Linked DNA regions of Homo sapiens: region 2 is linked to region 1. The links come from fine-mapping of genetic effects on gene expression. Tissue or cell type: whole blood. Region 1 holds a variant in brackets; the other region holds the start of a gene. All regions are shown on one strand. Distances are from middle to middle.

Region 1 (8,184 bases):
CTTGGATGTTCACCAATCTTTCTGTTTTCTCATCCATACGATGGGGATAATTATAATACCTTTCTCCTCCAGTTGTAAGAGTAAGAGAGCATACGTAAAGTGCTGAGTACAGGACCTGACGCAGAGAATGCATTCACATGGTATCAGCCACTATTAGAGAACTGCTTTCTAGGTGCTGAGATTTCAGTGGTGTACAGACCCAAGGATGCCCTCAAGGAGCTCACTAGCAGTTGGGAAACAGGACTCAGATATATAAATACAGTGGTAACTCAAAAGTGGTCTTAAAGAGAAGGAGAGTCTAATTAGGGATTTTAAAAATCTGCTATAACCCATTCAATTTTTAGCTCCCCAAGGGATTTTCCTCACCATCTGGGCCATCAATGCAAGCGAGTTTGAAAAGCCCTCATAATTTTCCTATATCACACCTCCTCCTCAGCAAGAAAGGCTCTGTGGGTGGAAAGCAGCAAAGAACACTGTATGTTATGCAGAAAGCAATCGTTCCTCAGAAGACACAGGGCTCTGCAGAGCAGATGAGCCACAGAAACTTGTTTGGATCAGAAAAATGGGATCATTTCACTGAAGACCTAGAGATAGGAACTGACCACTATTTTTTTTTTAAGGAGGAAAGGGGGATTCACCTCAAAGTACTTTTCTAATCAGAAACAGAATTTGAGAAGAATTTAACATCTTAATTAAAGATATAATGTCACTCTCCCATGTCATGAGATTTAACTTTCATCAAAGGAGAGGTCTAACATTAAAGTCAGAAGTGACTTAAAAAATAGCACACATTGACTTAAAAGTATATTTTGGGTGACATTATTGGAAAATCTCCACTGAGCAAAGCAGAAAATGATGAGGTTAGAAAAATAAAGGAAGCAAGCCGGGCGCGGTGGCTCACGCCTGTAATCCCAGCACTTTGGGAGGCCAAGGCAGGCGGATGACGAGGTCTGGAGTTCGAGACCAGCCTGACCAACATGGTGAAACCCCGTCTCTACTAAAAATTCAAAAATTAGCCAGGCGTGGTGGCGCACACCTGTAATCCCAGCTACTCAGGAGGCTGAGGCAGAAGAATTGCTTGAGACCAAGAGGTGGAGGTTGCAGTGACCCAAGATCGCACCATTGCACTCCAGCCTGGGCGGGTGACAGAGCGAGATTCTGTCCCTAAATAAATAAACAAATAAATAGAAAAATACAGGAGGCAAAGGGCAGAAATCTTGAAAGAAACATAAAAATCAAGTACAGCACAACTTGCCTTACAAATGCAGTACAGTTAATTACAGATGACAAATACTGTCTTATCCTCAATACCACCATCAGAGAGAGGGCGAGACAGTGAGAAAAGGATCTAAATGGGTCCCTCAAATCCCCTTCTAAGTAGTGAGGAGTAGGAGAGAAAAAGAAAATGAAGCAAATAGAAACAGATTTCACCCAACTTGTTGGGACAACTCTGAAATCTGTTCCTGGGCCTGCCTTTCCCAGGCCAAGAGCTGCTTGCCCAGGCTTTTCCCTGAAACCTTCATTTTACAATTACCTCATTCCTCCCCCATGCAACCTGGTAGTATTATTTTTATTTTTATTTTTTGAAATAGGGTCTCACCCTGTCACTGAGGCTGGAGTACAGTGGCATGATCACAGCTCACTGCAGCCTCGAAACCCCAGGCTCAGGTAATCCTCCCACTTCAGCCTCCCAAGCATACAAGGACTACAGGCATGCACCACCACACATGGCTAATTTTTGTATTTTTTGCAGAGATGGGATTTCATCATATTTCCCAGGCTGGTCTTGAACTCCTGGGCTCAAGCAATCTGCCCACCTTGGCCTCCCAAGGTGCTGGGACTACAGGTGGTGAGCCACCACGCCTCTCCCTAGTTGCATTTAAATGAAGGCTTTCTGGAGACTGGTGTAACCCAAAGGTCTTTCTCTAGGCTGGAGTATCAGTGTGAATGTTAGTGGGAAACATGCTAGCTGAAGGAGTGCTTACTGAGCTATCCCTCACAAGTATCAGCAGGTGGAGCTCCACCTGCAAGCTAGCTCTGAAATCACCCTTAGGAAGTGCAGTATACCTCAAAATCAGGCCCAGAAAAAGAAGATACAATGCTGCTATTTGTCTAATTCATGAGTTCAGTGTACTTTGACAATGTCCTTGTTATGATGCAACAAGGATTTCTCTCTGCCATTTTAGCTAAGGCGAACATATAAGGAAGACAACTGACCCAACTACAGAGAATGAGTATCTATACTTGCCCCGACACTAATGGTTCTGACTTTAGATACATACTATTTCTACCTGGCACAGGTAGAAATAGTCTTGCTGTCCTTCACAATTGATTAAAACTAATTTTGCAAATCCCAAATTATCTCACGTGAACTTTCTAATGAGGTACATTTGGTTTTGATTATTGTGCTTTTTCCAAGAACTAGCTTTTTTTAAATTAAAAGACCTCTTTCAAAACAGAAGATTTCAGTTAATTTGGCATTGCTCTTAGTTTTCCTCTCTGAAGTTGAACTTTTGTGTCCACTCCTTCCCTAAAAAGCAGTCCATTTGTAAACTAAGTTTTCTGGATATAGGTGAGCTATATACATATGCATGCACAGTAAAAGGAATGGCTAGCTCTTCTTCCCCTGGAGAGCAGAGCTTGGGTGACACTTTAGCACGATGCCCTGGGTATACACTCAATCAATACTGACTAGGCCCAGGAGATGGATCTGATCCACATTTTTAGGGGAACTAAGCAGAAAAGGAGATGTTTCCTGCGTGCTTCATAAAGTATATAGGTTTTTCACTGACTGAAAATGATTAGAATATAGTCCTCACAATTTTATAAGCACTAAATTTTCAAGAACTGAAGGGCCAGAGTCCTTAATGTCATAAACTCAATATCTTACAGTGCAAAGTGTGTGTATATAAATATATATATACATATATATAAAAGAAAATTAAGAATAGACTTTAAATTTAAAAATCTGAAGATCACTCTTTTAAACTACTTTCCATGATCTGTAGAATTTATAAAGTGGCAACTTGTAATATAAAAATAAATCAAGAAAACATTATCCTGAAGTAAACATTATTTGGTCAGAAATACAGCAATTGTTAGTTTAAATGAAACATAATTTTAAATTGTTTTTAATGCTTTGCAACTTGAATTTTCCATTCCCTATAATGCCTCCCTTCTCCATTAGTAGAAAAAAACCGAGAGCTGACTACACAACCAGAAGTCAGCCTGCTCCTCAAACCCAGTATCAATAAGATGTGAGAAGAAATGTCCCTGCCAAAGACATTAAGTTGCATCACTAATGCTCCAAAGAGGTTCATCAAATGATTCCAGAGGTACTTGCGAATTTCACCGAATCTCAAATGAAGGAGTCAATACAACCTGTTCCTGAGCAAGTGCTGTAGAAGAGTGGCCAGCTGGGATTAATCTGTAGGCAAGGCGCCCTGAAATGCAGAACAGCAACCACAGACACTAAACACTGTTTCCAAAATTTGCCAACTTTCCTAGTACTCACTTAAGAAATTCCCTCTTAGAAATTGTTTCTAAGGAAAGTTCAAACTATTGAGGGAAGAGGATGGTAAAGAGTAATCAAAACACATTCACTATTGCCATTCCTCTCTCATGGTGTTTCCCCTCACCCTAAGCAGCTTGATGGGATGCGGGGGATGGGGTGTGGAGGGGACAAGAAAAAGGCTTTTCTGTATTATATATGACAAAGGGACTTCTGGAGGGCAGTGACTACATTCCAGCCCTCTTCCACAACCCCAAAACACACCACCACTGCACTCTCTCTGGGTAGTCCCCTAACAGTTCTACAAAGTGCCACATGTTAGCAAAATGTGGGCATACAGCTAATATTTAATGGTAATAATAAACCAAATTAAAGATACTAGATTTGCTAGATTTGGTGAATTATGAGAAAGCACAAACTGAGGAGTCCTTTATTAACTGGTACAGCATAGGTAAAGAATAATTCTGGCCAGTATCTACCCAAGGAAAGAAGAATCCAATCGTGTTCATTACTCATTAACTGAGCACACACCCCAATACAACAAAGAAGTCAGTTCAAAGCAAACCATAGCTGGAAACGTCAAAAGAAAACCATTCCTTGCTTGCAGGAAGGGAAAATGCAGAACTAGCTTTTAGATAATAGAAATGAGACTTCAGAGACTGCCTTTCCTTGGGTGAAGAGCAGGTGATTAGAGTCCCTAGTAAACATCTGCCCAAACAACTGGCCCCTGGATTTGAGAAGAAATTAAAATAGAGGAAATAACATAACATAATAAAACACTACTATGTACTGGCTATGAAGTACGATAAAGTGAAAGAAAGAACATACAAGCCCTTGCCTTATTGTTTGTCTCAACCAGATCCATGGTGCCAATCCAGACCCAGGCCTTCTGGATGGAAGTGAACAGACCAAGAAGATGATCAGAGAATCCAAACCCTTACCTATTTATACTAAACTGAAAGCTCACTCCAAGGATGTCAGTTCATTACATAAATGCCTTCTACACGGGCTGGGTGTGGTGGCTCACGCCTGTAATCCCAGGCCGAGGCAGGAGGATCACTTGAAGCCAGGAGTTCGAGACCAGAGACTGGGCAACATGGAGAAACCCCGTCTCTACTAAAAATACAAAACTCAGGCAGGTGTAGTGGCGCGCACCTGTCATCCCAGCTACTTGGGAGGATGAGGCATGAGAATCACCTGAACCCAGGAGGTGGAGGTTGCAATGGGCCAAGATCGCACTACTGCACTCTAGCCTGGGTGAGAGTAAGGCTCCATCTCAAAAAAACAAATAAATAAATAAAATGCATGGCAACTGACATCATGTACATCAACATTTGAGACACAGTGGGTTAGAGGGCTGTATGTGTCCACTGAGTGTTTGCAAGTCAAGGACAAAAACATTTAGAAACCTGTCTGAATCTTAGATGACAACATTTAAGATGTTTGTTATGTTTAAGATGTCTGGTATACTCAGTTTCTTCCTAAGATGGCGAAAAAGTAGCCCCTATTTAGTAAGTGGTCATGTAGCAAGTTAACAGCACACTCGTAACTGAGTACTTCCG[T/A]AGTGCTTTAACCTAGACTCTTTTGTTTCTATTTGATTTGCTTGATTTTGTATTTAATATTAGAACAAATCTTTTTTTTTTTTTTGACAGAGTCTCATTCTGTCGCCAGGCTGGAGTGCAGTGGCGCGATCTCGGCTCACTACAACCTCCGACTCCCAGGTTCAAGTGATTCTCCTGCCTGAGCCTCCTGAATAGTTGGGATTATAGGCATGTGCCACCACAACCAGTTAATTTTTTGTATTTTTAGTAGAAATGGGGTTTCACCATGTTGGCCAGGATGGTCTCGATCTCCTGACCTCGTGATCTGCCTGCCTCAGCCTCCCAAAGTGCTGGGATTATAGGCGTGAGCCACTGCGCTGGGCCTATTAGAACAAATCTTAGTCAAAAGACTTCATGTGCCAATAAAAAAAAAAGAGTTTTCCATATTTGCATTAGTACATGCAAACAGATCTTTAGAAGGTATTCCTAACAGGTGTATTTCTTCATTTAGACTGCACCATTCTGTTACAAAACCTATTTTCAGTAAGTGGGGAAACAATGCTGGTTTACTTTCTCTCTTCGAACTTTTCTGCCTCTCACATTTGTTTGACAGACCTAATGCTGACAGTTTTCTAAGATTCATTACTGAAATTTAACTAAATTTAACACAGCACATGAAGAAAAGAACCCAATATTACACTTTCATTCACTACATTAGACTTTCAGAATTCACTACCAAGCATATCTTTTAACATACGTGTTACATATGAAGGAAGCAGACTGCTGCCTATTTCCTCATTTATTAATATATTCAGTCATTTATTCAACAAATGTCGAACATTATTGAGCATCTAGCACGTACTATATTTGGGCCAAGAAATGCAGTGAACAATTCCTACTGTCATGGTCCCTGCCTTCTAATAATACACAAATAAACAACACACACAAACAACATTCTAATTCTACATATATAATTAATTGCAATTGCAATAAATACTATAAAAGTATAGGGGCCACGAAAGTGTATAATGGGGGTGTGAATCTGAGAGATCAGGAGATGCTTCCCTCAGGAAGTGACATTTAAGGTGGAACATGATGAATAAGGAGGGTTCAGGAGAAGCTTCCCTCAGGAAGTGACATGTAAGGTGGAACATGATGAATAAGGAGGGCTCAGGAGAAGCTTCCCTCAGGAAGTGACATGTAAGGTGGAACATGATGAATAAGGAGGGTTCAGGAGAAGTTTCCCTCAGGAAGTCACATGTAAGGTGGAACATGATGAATAAGGAGGGTTCAGGAGAAGCTTTCCTCAGGAAGTCACATTTAAGGTGGAACATGATGAATAAGGAGGGTTCAGGAGAAGCTTCCCTCAGGAAGTGACATGTAAGATGGAACATGATGAATAAGATGTAAGGTGGAACATGATGAATAAGGAGGGTTCAGGAGAAGCTTCCCTCAGGAAGTGACGTTTAAGGTGGAACATGATGAATAAGGAGGGTTCAGGAGAAGCTTCCCTCAGGAAGTGACATGTAAGGTGGAACATGATGAATAAGGAGGGTTCAGGAGAAGTTTCCCTCAGGAAGTGACATGTAAGGTGGAACATGATGAATAAGGAGGGTTCAGGAGAAGCTTCCCTCAGGAAGTGACGTTTAAGGTGGAACATGATGAATAAGGAGGGTTCAGGAGAAGCTTCCCTCAGGAAGTGACATGTAAGGTGGAACATGATGAATAAGGAGGGTTCAGGAGAAGCTTTCCTCAGGAAGTGACATTTAAGGTGGAACATGATGAATAAGGAGGGTTCAGGAGAAGCTTCCCTCAGGAAGTGACATGTAAGGTGGAACATGATGAATAAGGAGGGTTCAGGAGAAGCTTCCCTCAGGAAGTGACATGTAAGATGGAACATGATGAATAAGATGTAAGGTGGAACATGATGAATAAGGAGGGTTCAGGAGAAGCTTCCCTCAGGAAGTGACGTGTAAGGTGGAACATGATGAATAAGGAGGGTTCAGGAGAAGCTTCCCTCAGGAAGTGACATGTAAGGTGGAACATGATGAATAAGGAGGGCTCAGGAGAAGCTTCCCTCAGGAAGTGACATGTAAGATGGAACATGACGAATAAGATGTAAGGTGGAACATGATGAATAAGGAGGGTTCAGGACACGCTTCCCTCAGGAAGTGACATGTAAGGTGGAACATGATGAATAAGGAGGGCTCAGGAGAAGCTTCCCTCAGGGAGTGACATGTAAGATGGAACATGATGAATAAGATGTAAGGTGGAACATGACGAATAAGGAGGTTTCAGGAGAAGCTTCCCTCAGGGAGTGACATGTAAGATGGAACATGATGAATAAGATGTAAGGTGGAACATGAATAAGGAGGGCTCAGGAGAAGCTTCCCTCAGGGAGTGACATGTAAGATGGAACAAGATGAATAAGATGTAAGGTGGAACATGACGAATAAGGAGGTTTCAGGAGAAGCTTCCCTCAGGAAGTGACATGTAAGACGGAACATGATGAATAAGATGTAAGGTGGAACATGATGAATAAGGAGGGTTCAGGAGAAGCTTCCCTCAGGAAGTGACATGTAAGATAGAACATGATGAATAAAGAGGGCTCAGGAGAAGCTTCCCTCAGGAAGTGACATGTAAGATGGAACATGACGAATAAGATGTAAGGTGGAACATGATGAATAAGGAGGGTTCAGGAGAAGCTTCCCTCAGGAAGTGACATGTAAGGTGGAACATGATGAATAAGGAGGGCTGAGGAGAAGCTTCTCTCAGGGAGTGACATGTAAGATGGAACATGATGAATAAGATGTAAGGTGGAACATGATGAATAAGGAGGGTTCAGGAGAAGCTTCCCTCAGGAAGTGACATGTAAGGTGGAACATGATGAATAAGGAGGGCTCAGGAGAAGCTTCCCTCAGGAAGTGACATGTAAGATGGAACATGATGAATAAGATGTAAGGTGGAACATGATGAATAAGGAGGGTTCAGGAGACGCTTCCCTCAGGAAGTGACATGTAAGGTGGAACATGATGAATAAGGAGGGCTCAGGAGAAGCTTCCCTCAGGAAGTGACATGTAAGATGGAACATGATGAATAAGATGTAAGGTGGAACATGATGAATAAGGAGGG
Region 2 (8,184 bases), 27 kb after region 1:
CACTTTCAAGTGACAAAGTGAGATAAACTGAATATTTACTAGAATCACCTCTGGAAAGATACAAAAAAATTAAATTCAGCCTCTGTTACCAACAAAATGTTTATTATCATTGAGAAAATACAATGCACTGACACCTAACAACTAAAGCCCAATGTAAATCGGAGTCAATTACCCTGGCTCTTTAAGGACTGGCGATGTTTTACCCATTTTGCAACCCTAGCACACAGAACAGTGCCTGACACGTCATAGATACTCAATAAATGGGTGTTGTACTAAACTGAACTAGAGACTATGATCTAAGCTTATTTAGAGATAGGAAGGATCACTGTGGGCTGAGGTTGTCAAACATAGCAGATAGCATGACTATGGCAGAATTTGATTTTGGCAATAATTTTCAGGAAGAAGGCTGAACCATAGAAACCTTGGGAAACTGCAAATGAAAGATAATGTAAGAAAAAATGTTCATATAGTCCTAACTCTATTAAATAGTTTGATGTCTTTATACAAGCAGCACTGAAACCTCTGCTGTATGTATTAACTACTCATGGGAAATGTAATATATAACACATAACAAATACTACTTAAAACCAAAAGAAACACACCAACACAAAACACTACAGCATTCCTGGGACATCAGAAACAAGGGCTAACTCTCAGGAAGCTTTCTGTGTGCCATGCCAAGAAGCAGAGAGACAGTCAATTAAGGCTTTAGCTCTCCATATAGAGTACCACAGTGGATACTGTCCTTGCTAAACTAGGTGTAAAAGAATGTGCTTACCAAAACTTTCTTTCGGGATCGCTTTACACTCCAGTGAAGCTATTTGCATATACTGCTAGAATTCTGAGAGTACATGCAAAGATCTGAAATTTGCATTCAACTTTGACAGCATAACATTCACACCACCTGACTATAAACATCTTTTTTTTTCCCCCAAGACGGAGTTTCACTCTTGTACCCCAGGCAAGAGTGCAGTGGCGCAATCTCAGCTCACTGCAACCTCCACCTCCCGGGTTCAAGCGATTCTCCTGCCTCAGCCTCCAGAGTAGCTGGGACTACAGGCAAGCACCAGCACGCCCGGCTAATTTTTGTATTTTTAGTAGAGACAGGGCTTCATCATGTTGGCCAAGATGTTCTTGATCTCCTGATCTTGTGATCCGCCCACCTCGGCTTCCCAAAGTGCTGGCGTGAGCCACTGTACCCGGCCAACTATAAACATATCTTAAAAGAGAATCCAGCTGGGCGTGGTGGCTCACGCCTGTAATCTCAGCACTTTGGTAGGCCAAGGCGGGCAGGTCACTTGAGGTCAGGAGTTCAAGACCAGCCTGGCCAACATGGTGAAACCCCATGTCTACTAAAAACAATAAAAAAATTAGTCAGGCAAGGTGGCACGCATCTGTAATCTCAGCTACTCGGGAGGCTGAGGCAGGAGAATGGCTTTAACCTGGGAGGCGGAGTTTTGCAGTGAGTTTTGCAGTGAGCTGAGCTCATGCCACTGCATCAGAAACTCAGTCTCAAAAAAAAAAAAAAATCCAACTTCACCACTAGGGTATTCTTCAGCAGACTCCATACATCCTAACTTCATTCACACATATTTTCCTTTCTTTTACTACATTTGTGCTTTTAAAAAATTCAAAGAATTTATGGAGAAGGAATTTGCTAATACCACATCTCTAACAGCTGCTAGTCGAATGTACTAAATCCATAGCTGCGTCTGTTACATTATGTGGCCATCTTATACTTGAGGAAAGTCTGGTTGCTTTCAAAAGAACTGATTTAAACCCACCCCATGGAGTTTAAGAACAAGTTCCATGGAGCTTAGGGGTTGTGTGGATAATTCTGCCTGAATGTAATACTGCAATTACTTATGATTAAGTATCTCTAGTACTTATCCATTCAGTCTCCTTAGCCTGAAGCACTGAAGAACAAATGCCCATCAACAAGTCATGTGGGAATGAGCAGCTGATATAAAGTACTGCATGCTTTCAAGACAGGTGTTCTTTGTTTTTTTTAAAACATACACACAAGTCTGACAATGATTATATCTGCCAGATAATTAAGAATTAGAACATAAAAGAATATGCCATTCTAAAAAACGTTACTGGAGTCCAAACAGATGCAAATAAAAGAATTAAACATTTTTTCAAAAATTTCCCAGAAATTTTGATTTTCAGATTTTGATATGCTTCAGCACACAAGTTGTCTTATCTGAAGAATGAAAACTGTTGCTGTTTTAATTCTAAATAAGGCACTTCTCTCTAGAATATCAAAGATTTGGAAACCTAACACTAATGAGTACACAATCATTCAAAAAAGCCATGTGGCATAACATTTGTAAAGCTGAACTGCACCTGTCATGAGTCAACAAAAGAATATTTTATATACAAACCACATAGTGTTGAAAACTTGATAATCTGTTTAAACTGATCCATTAAAAGAACTCCACCGTCAAATGGAATAATACAAATAACTAAAAATTGGATTAACACAAATAATGAAGGATTTCCCATTTAAAACGCACAGGATAACACTCCCGACAAGGGTCTGAATCTCTCCATACTTCTGTTCCCTCATCCACAAAAGGGCACAACAATAGTAACGACTTCTTAGAGTTATCAAGATTAAATAAATTAGCAAACATTAAATTCTTGTAACAGAGCCTGGCAAAGGGTAACCACAAAAGAAATGTTTGCTGTTATATCAAGAACCAAAATTTTTAAGATGAAAATAAATAGTAATAGCAATTGAGAATAATCATAAAAAATAAAAAGGACACAGTAGTCATGACTTCTGGAAGAACAGTTTTAGGGTAGCTTAAAGCATAAACCAAATAATGGAAAAAGAGCCCCTACTAAAAAAAAGATAGCTACACGCCTTCAAAGTGGATTCATACATCCTACTACCTCGATTATTTGTCATTAGAACTAGTTTGCAAAATTTGATTCTTCCTCCTACGCTCTGCATGTGAATCCCAGCCCCTACCAGCAAAAAAGCCACAAAACTAGTCCCTTAGGGGAAGGAAATCAGAGGTTAAGGGTAAGTGAAGCTCTTTGCATTTTCTAGTTTTATTAACAAACTACCAAGTTGAAATTCATTCCTGAGCTAAACTGCCAAATGCTTCTGCAACAAAAACTGCAAACTTTCACGTGAACAGATCTTTTCAACAATAGAGAGTTGTTCCAGGCTGTGAATAGGACAGTGTCAGTGTGACCAACACAGCGGGTGCTGGACATTCCTGACACCCTTGTCCCCTGGCTAGCCTTTGATCACTTATCTCCCAACAGCATTTGGTTTTGGGAATCACTTTCAGGCAAAGTATACAGACTTTGCCTTAGCGTACATAATCTATACGCTAAAACTCATCTTTTGTCACAGCCCATCACGAGCATCCCATTAGCATAAAGCACCAAACACAGGAATGCTTTGTTTTCCAAAATCTGTCCACCTTCACTCCTAAACAGTCCCTCCGTGTTTTAATTTGTATATTCTGGAAAACATCATGGGATGACAGTGGCAATTCAAACAATAAAATAATCTAAGAACCGAAAAAGGTCCTGGTCTGGTTACCTGCGGATGGCTGCCAGGGGAAGAGTGTGGTGTCCTGCTTTAGGTAAATATGAAGTTGAGGCTTCACTACTTAGAATGCAGCCTTGGAAAGCAGACTAGACTTGACTCTGAAAATGGATTAATGAAACCTATCTCACAGAGCTGCTGAAAGGAGTAAACGAGATAATGGCTCCAAAGTGCCTAGTAGACAGTACAAGCTCACTAAAGGAAAGCTATTTTAGTCCTCTGTACAACTGTCCAGGAAAATGTGGATCTAATGAGAATTCCAAACAGAGGGAAAGAAAATGCACAAAACTATCAAGTTTATTAGTGTGTCTTGATCAAATGCCCCGAATGCTATTTCCGGATAAGAGTCTGCGTGGTCTCCTCGGCCAGGCCAGAGACAAAAAAGGTACTGGATTGATATCCATTTTATTTCTGTAAAAGAAAAGCAGTTCCTTTGTGTCGAGTCAAATGAACTGCAGATCCCCAGAGGGCTGTGACCAAGCAGCCCGCCAGGCCTCGGAGCTCTGCCTCGCCGGTCCTCAGCTACGTCCCCCGCTCACCGTCCCTTCTGGAGAGCACAGCACTGCTGCGCAGGGTCTTCCAGCAAGTTCCAGCGCCCACGCCGCAGCTGCCGCGCTCCCTCCAGAGGGCCGTGCCCACCGCCCGGGAGGGGTCCACCCCGGGGACGAGCCCACCGCCCAGCACAGGACCCCGCCTGGGAGGAGCCCACCCGGGGGATGAGCCCACCGCCCAGCACAGGACCCCGCCTGGGAGGAGCCCACCCGGGGGATGAGCCCACCGCCCAGCACAGGACCCCGCCCGAGAAGAGCCCGCCCCCGGGGTCCGACGGCTGTCCGGGACCGACTCACTGCCTGGGACGGGCCCCCCATCCCAAATTAGCTCCCCGCCCCGGTCCAACTGCCGGGCGTCCCAGGGCCCCCGCCCTAGCCAGGCCCGAGTCCCAGCCCTGGCTGCGGGGACGCGGGCGCGCGCCGCCCCTCCGGCCCGGGACCCCGGGAGCCCTCGGAGCCAGGACCGCTATCCTCGCCCGGACCGGCTCCAGCAGCTTCGGCCCGCTCTGCTTCCGTCGCCCCCAGACCCTAGTCTCCCAACAGCGGAAACGCGCAAACTCACCCCTGAAAAGCAGCAGCAGGAAGAAGTCAGGCAGCCGAGCGCAGAGCCGGAGTCGCGGTGGCCGCCTCAGCGCCATGTCGAGGGTTGCTGAGGGGCCAGCGGCAGCGCGGCGCGGCTTGTAGTCCCCGCGCGCATGCGCCCAGCCTGCCAGGACCCTGCGACCCGCCCCAGTTACCATGGCGACCGCCGGGCCCAGCCGAGCCGGCACCATGGTGACAGAGGAAGCTGAGGTCTAGCTGCTTACGGATGCAGCGATGCTCTGGACCGGCACATGGGTTCTCTTTCAATGAACTTGGCGGGAGGAGAGTAAAGAAGTATGTACAAGAGTGAAGCAGGGTATATTTCCATAGCTATAGAATAAATCCATCACAACAGGTCGGAGAAGGAACACTCCTTTAAAATTTGGGAAATAAAGTATTTCTTATTTTACAAATAAGGATGCAGCCCAGTTATCTTGGAAGCATTATCGCCTTCACATCTTTTGGGCCCCCAATTCCAAATTGATGGAAGGAAAAGAGCTGAAATCTGCTTAAAACATAAGCAATACATACATTATACAGCATATAAAAGTGATGTCTTGCTAAAATAATTTGTTTATGTGGTAGATCAAAAGCATGATGGCATACCCAATAGTTTATTCTGCAGAAAAGCAGACTAATTATTTGCTCTGATTTCTGAATACTGGGAGATAGTAAAACCAGGGAAGAACAGGTAAGATGAGGACAAACAGGAAAAATGAAGAGAAGGATAAATTAAAGCAGAAATTAGATCTAAAAAAGCAAGAGTATTTAAAGTCTCACTTAATACTATGGAAAATACTTGAAAAGCTTGTATTTTAGCAAGTATAGAAAGTACACCTCCAATGTTCCCAGAAACAGCAGTCTAGCAACAGAATTCTGAATATAATTGTTAGTAAAATAAGCCAGTTTCCAACTAATATTTTTAATGTTTAACTTTTTCATATACTCATGCTACTTTTTTAGTATTTTTAGTTTTCATGCAAAATAGAAGTATATTTACATATTATGTATACCAAATTTATATATGTAAAAGCCGGGAAACGTGAAATAGATTGAGATTGTTGCCAAGAATATGCTTCAGTTTCCATCACTGTATAATCTTCTTTGTAAATCTTTATAACTGCTCAGATCTTTATGTTAATTGATTACCTTCTCAAAAATCTTATAAAGACAGAATAAAAATTAAAAAATAACTCAATTACCTACTATGATTCTGTCTTTCCTTTCATAAATCTTCTTTATGTTCCAGGTCACCATGCACTAAATCACAAGTAAAAGTGTGTAAAAGTTGTTTTATAATGGTGGCCTCTTTCCCTTTATCAAGCACAAAATCGAGAAATTAAAAAGAAGAAAATTCGTCTTATGCCCACTGACATTTTTTTCTGCCCTCTGTTTTCCCTATTATTCCCTTTAGCTCCTGGTCACATGGCCAGGCATATTTACCTAACTGAAGGAACTGTTTGGGTTACTTGGAAATGTGAGATGGTGTCTGACTGTGGACAGAGCACGGTTTTCAAAAACCAGTGCCTCTTTTCTCCTGCGGAATTTTCAGTGTTTGCGTTGTAAAATGGTCTATCTGTTAAATGGTCTTCCTGCTAGGGAATCTTTTGAAACTCAGACCGAGATTACAAAAAAGGGCTGCATGAATATTCTATAAGGGGCAGAGGTTCCTAGGAGAGTGGATGGCAGGTGCTTCATTGTAAGACATTGATTTTCCTCTGCAGATGGAGTCGGCATGTCATTACCAACAGCTGAGACAGTTCCTGGAATGGAAGTCTAACTAGGGATGCAGCAGAGTGGGGTAGGACACACGTGGCTGTGAAGTGGTCTGCTCTTCCTTAGGGTTTCATTGTTCCCTGGAGAGCTCTGACCCTGTGCAGAAGGGAATCAGAGCTCAATAAGGCCAGCAGCAAAGTCCTGGAAGCATTCCGTGAGCAGGGCTGAGGAGGCTCTGCCTCCATCACAGCATTACTCATCTGAATATGCTTATTTCTAAGGTGTGGCTTACTAGGGAGACATGCACTTCTTAAAAGAGCTCGGGGAACTGAATGTAAACCAACAATAAAATGCTAAGCCCTGGCCAGGCGTGGTGGCTCACGCCTATAATCTCAGCACTTTGGCAGACCAAGGAGGGAAGACCATGAGGTCAGGAGTTTGAGACCAGCCTGACCAACATGGTGAAACCCTGTCTCTACTAAAAATACAAAAATTTGCCAGGCATGGTGGCAGGCGCCTGTAATCCCAGCTACTCGGGAGGCTGAGGCAGGAGAATCACTTGAACCCGGGAGGTGGAAGTTGCAGTGAGCCAAGATTGCGCCACTGCACTTCAGCCTGGGTGACAGAGTGAGACTCTGTCTCAAAAAAAAAAAAAAGCTAAGCCCCTCAACAATCTGAAATGACCCCTCCTCTCAGCCAAAGGCACTGCAAAGTTAACCTGAAAAACTAGTTTAAGCCATGATCGGGGAGTTGGATATGCCTTATTATACCCTCCACCCTTTTGGAATTCAGGCCAACTGACCAGCATCAACATTAAAACAGATCTTAAGACTGATAGGGCCAGGTGCGGTGGTTCAGGCCTGTAATCCAGGCCCTTTAGGAGGCCAAGGTGGGCGAATCACCTGAGTTCAGGAGTTTGAGACCAGCCTGGCCAACATGGTGAAACCCTGTCTCTACTAAAAATACAAAAAATTAACCAGGCATCATGATGCATGCCTGTAGTTCCAACTACTTGGGAGACTGAGGCAGGAGAATCGCTGGAACCCAGAAGGCGGAGGTTGCAGTGAGCTGAGATCGTGCCACTGCACTCCACCTGGGCAACACAATGAGACTCCGTCTAAAAACAAACAAACAAAAAAGACTGATACAACAGACTCTCTCTCTCTCTCTGAAGCCTGTTACCTGGAGGCTTCATCTGCATGATAAAAACTTGGTCTCCACAACCGTTATTCTAACACAGACGTTCCTTTCTTGCTTGCTTTTTTTTTGTTTTGTTTTTTGTTTTTGTTTGTTTGTTTGTTTGACAGGGTCTTACCCTGTCACTCAGGCTGGAGTGCAGTGGCACACAATCGTGGCTCATGCTTGAGCCTCAACCTCCAGGCTCAAGCAATCCTCCCACCTCAGCCTCCTGAGCAGCTGGGACCACAGGTGTGCGCCACCATAGCTGGCTAATTTTTCTACTTTTTTTTTTGGTAGAGATGGGATCTCACCATGTTGCCCAAGCTGATCTTGAACTTCTGGGCTCAAGTAATTTGCCCGCCTCAACTTCCCAATGTGCTGGGATTACAGAAGCGAGCCACTGCCCCAGAGCCAGACCAGACCTTCCTTTCTATCAGAATAATCTTTGAATCTGCCTATGACCTGAAATCCCAACCCCACCCACTTATAGTTGTCCCACCTTTCTAGACAGAACCAATGTACACCTTACATGTATTGACCGATGCCTCATGTCTCAAAAAAAAGAAAAAAAGGAATGTGATCCAT

Evidence for each region. PIP is the estimated chance that this variant, and not a neighbour inherited with it, causes the effect.
Region 2: it holds the start of JAM3, and the variant in region 1 is fine-mapped to the expression of JAM3 in whole blood (TOPMed, PIP above 0.99).

The regions. Positions count from the first base shown.
Region 1 is chr11:134,092,602-134,100,785 of GRCh38, reverse strand. The region is part of intron 1 of JAM3 (junctional adhesion molecule 3); the gene reads right to left. It overlaps LOC124902797 (a long non-coding RNA gene), which reads left to right and starts at 6,101. Exons shown (of 2, transcript XR_007062960.1): 1 at 6,101-6,257; 2 at 6,438-8,184. The variant T/A (reference allele first, on the strand shown) is at 5,074.
Region 2 is chr11:134,065,660-134,073,843 of GRCh38, reverse strand. JAM3 (junctional adhesion molecule 3) reads right to left here and starts at 4,772. Exons shown (of 9, transcript NM_032801.5): 1 at 4,685-4,772. The coding sequence starts at 4,760. RefSeq lists a silencer at 4,778-4,967.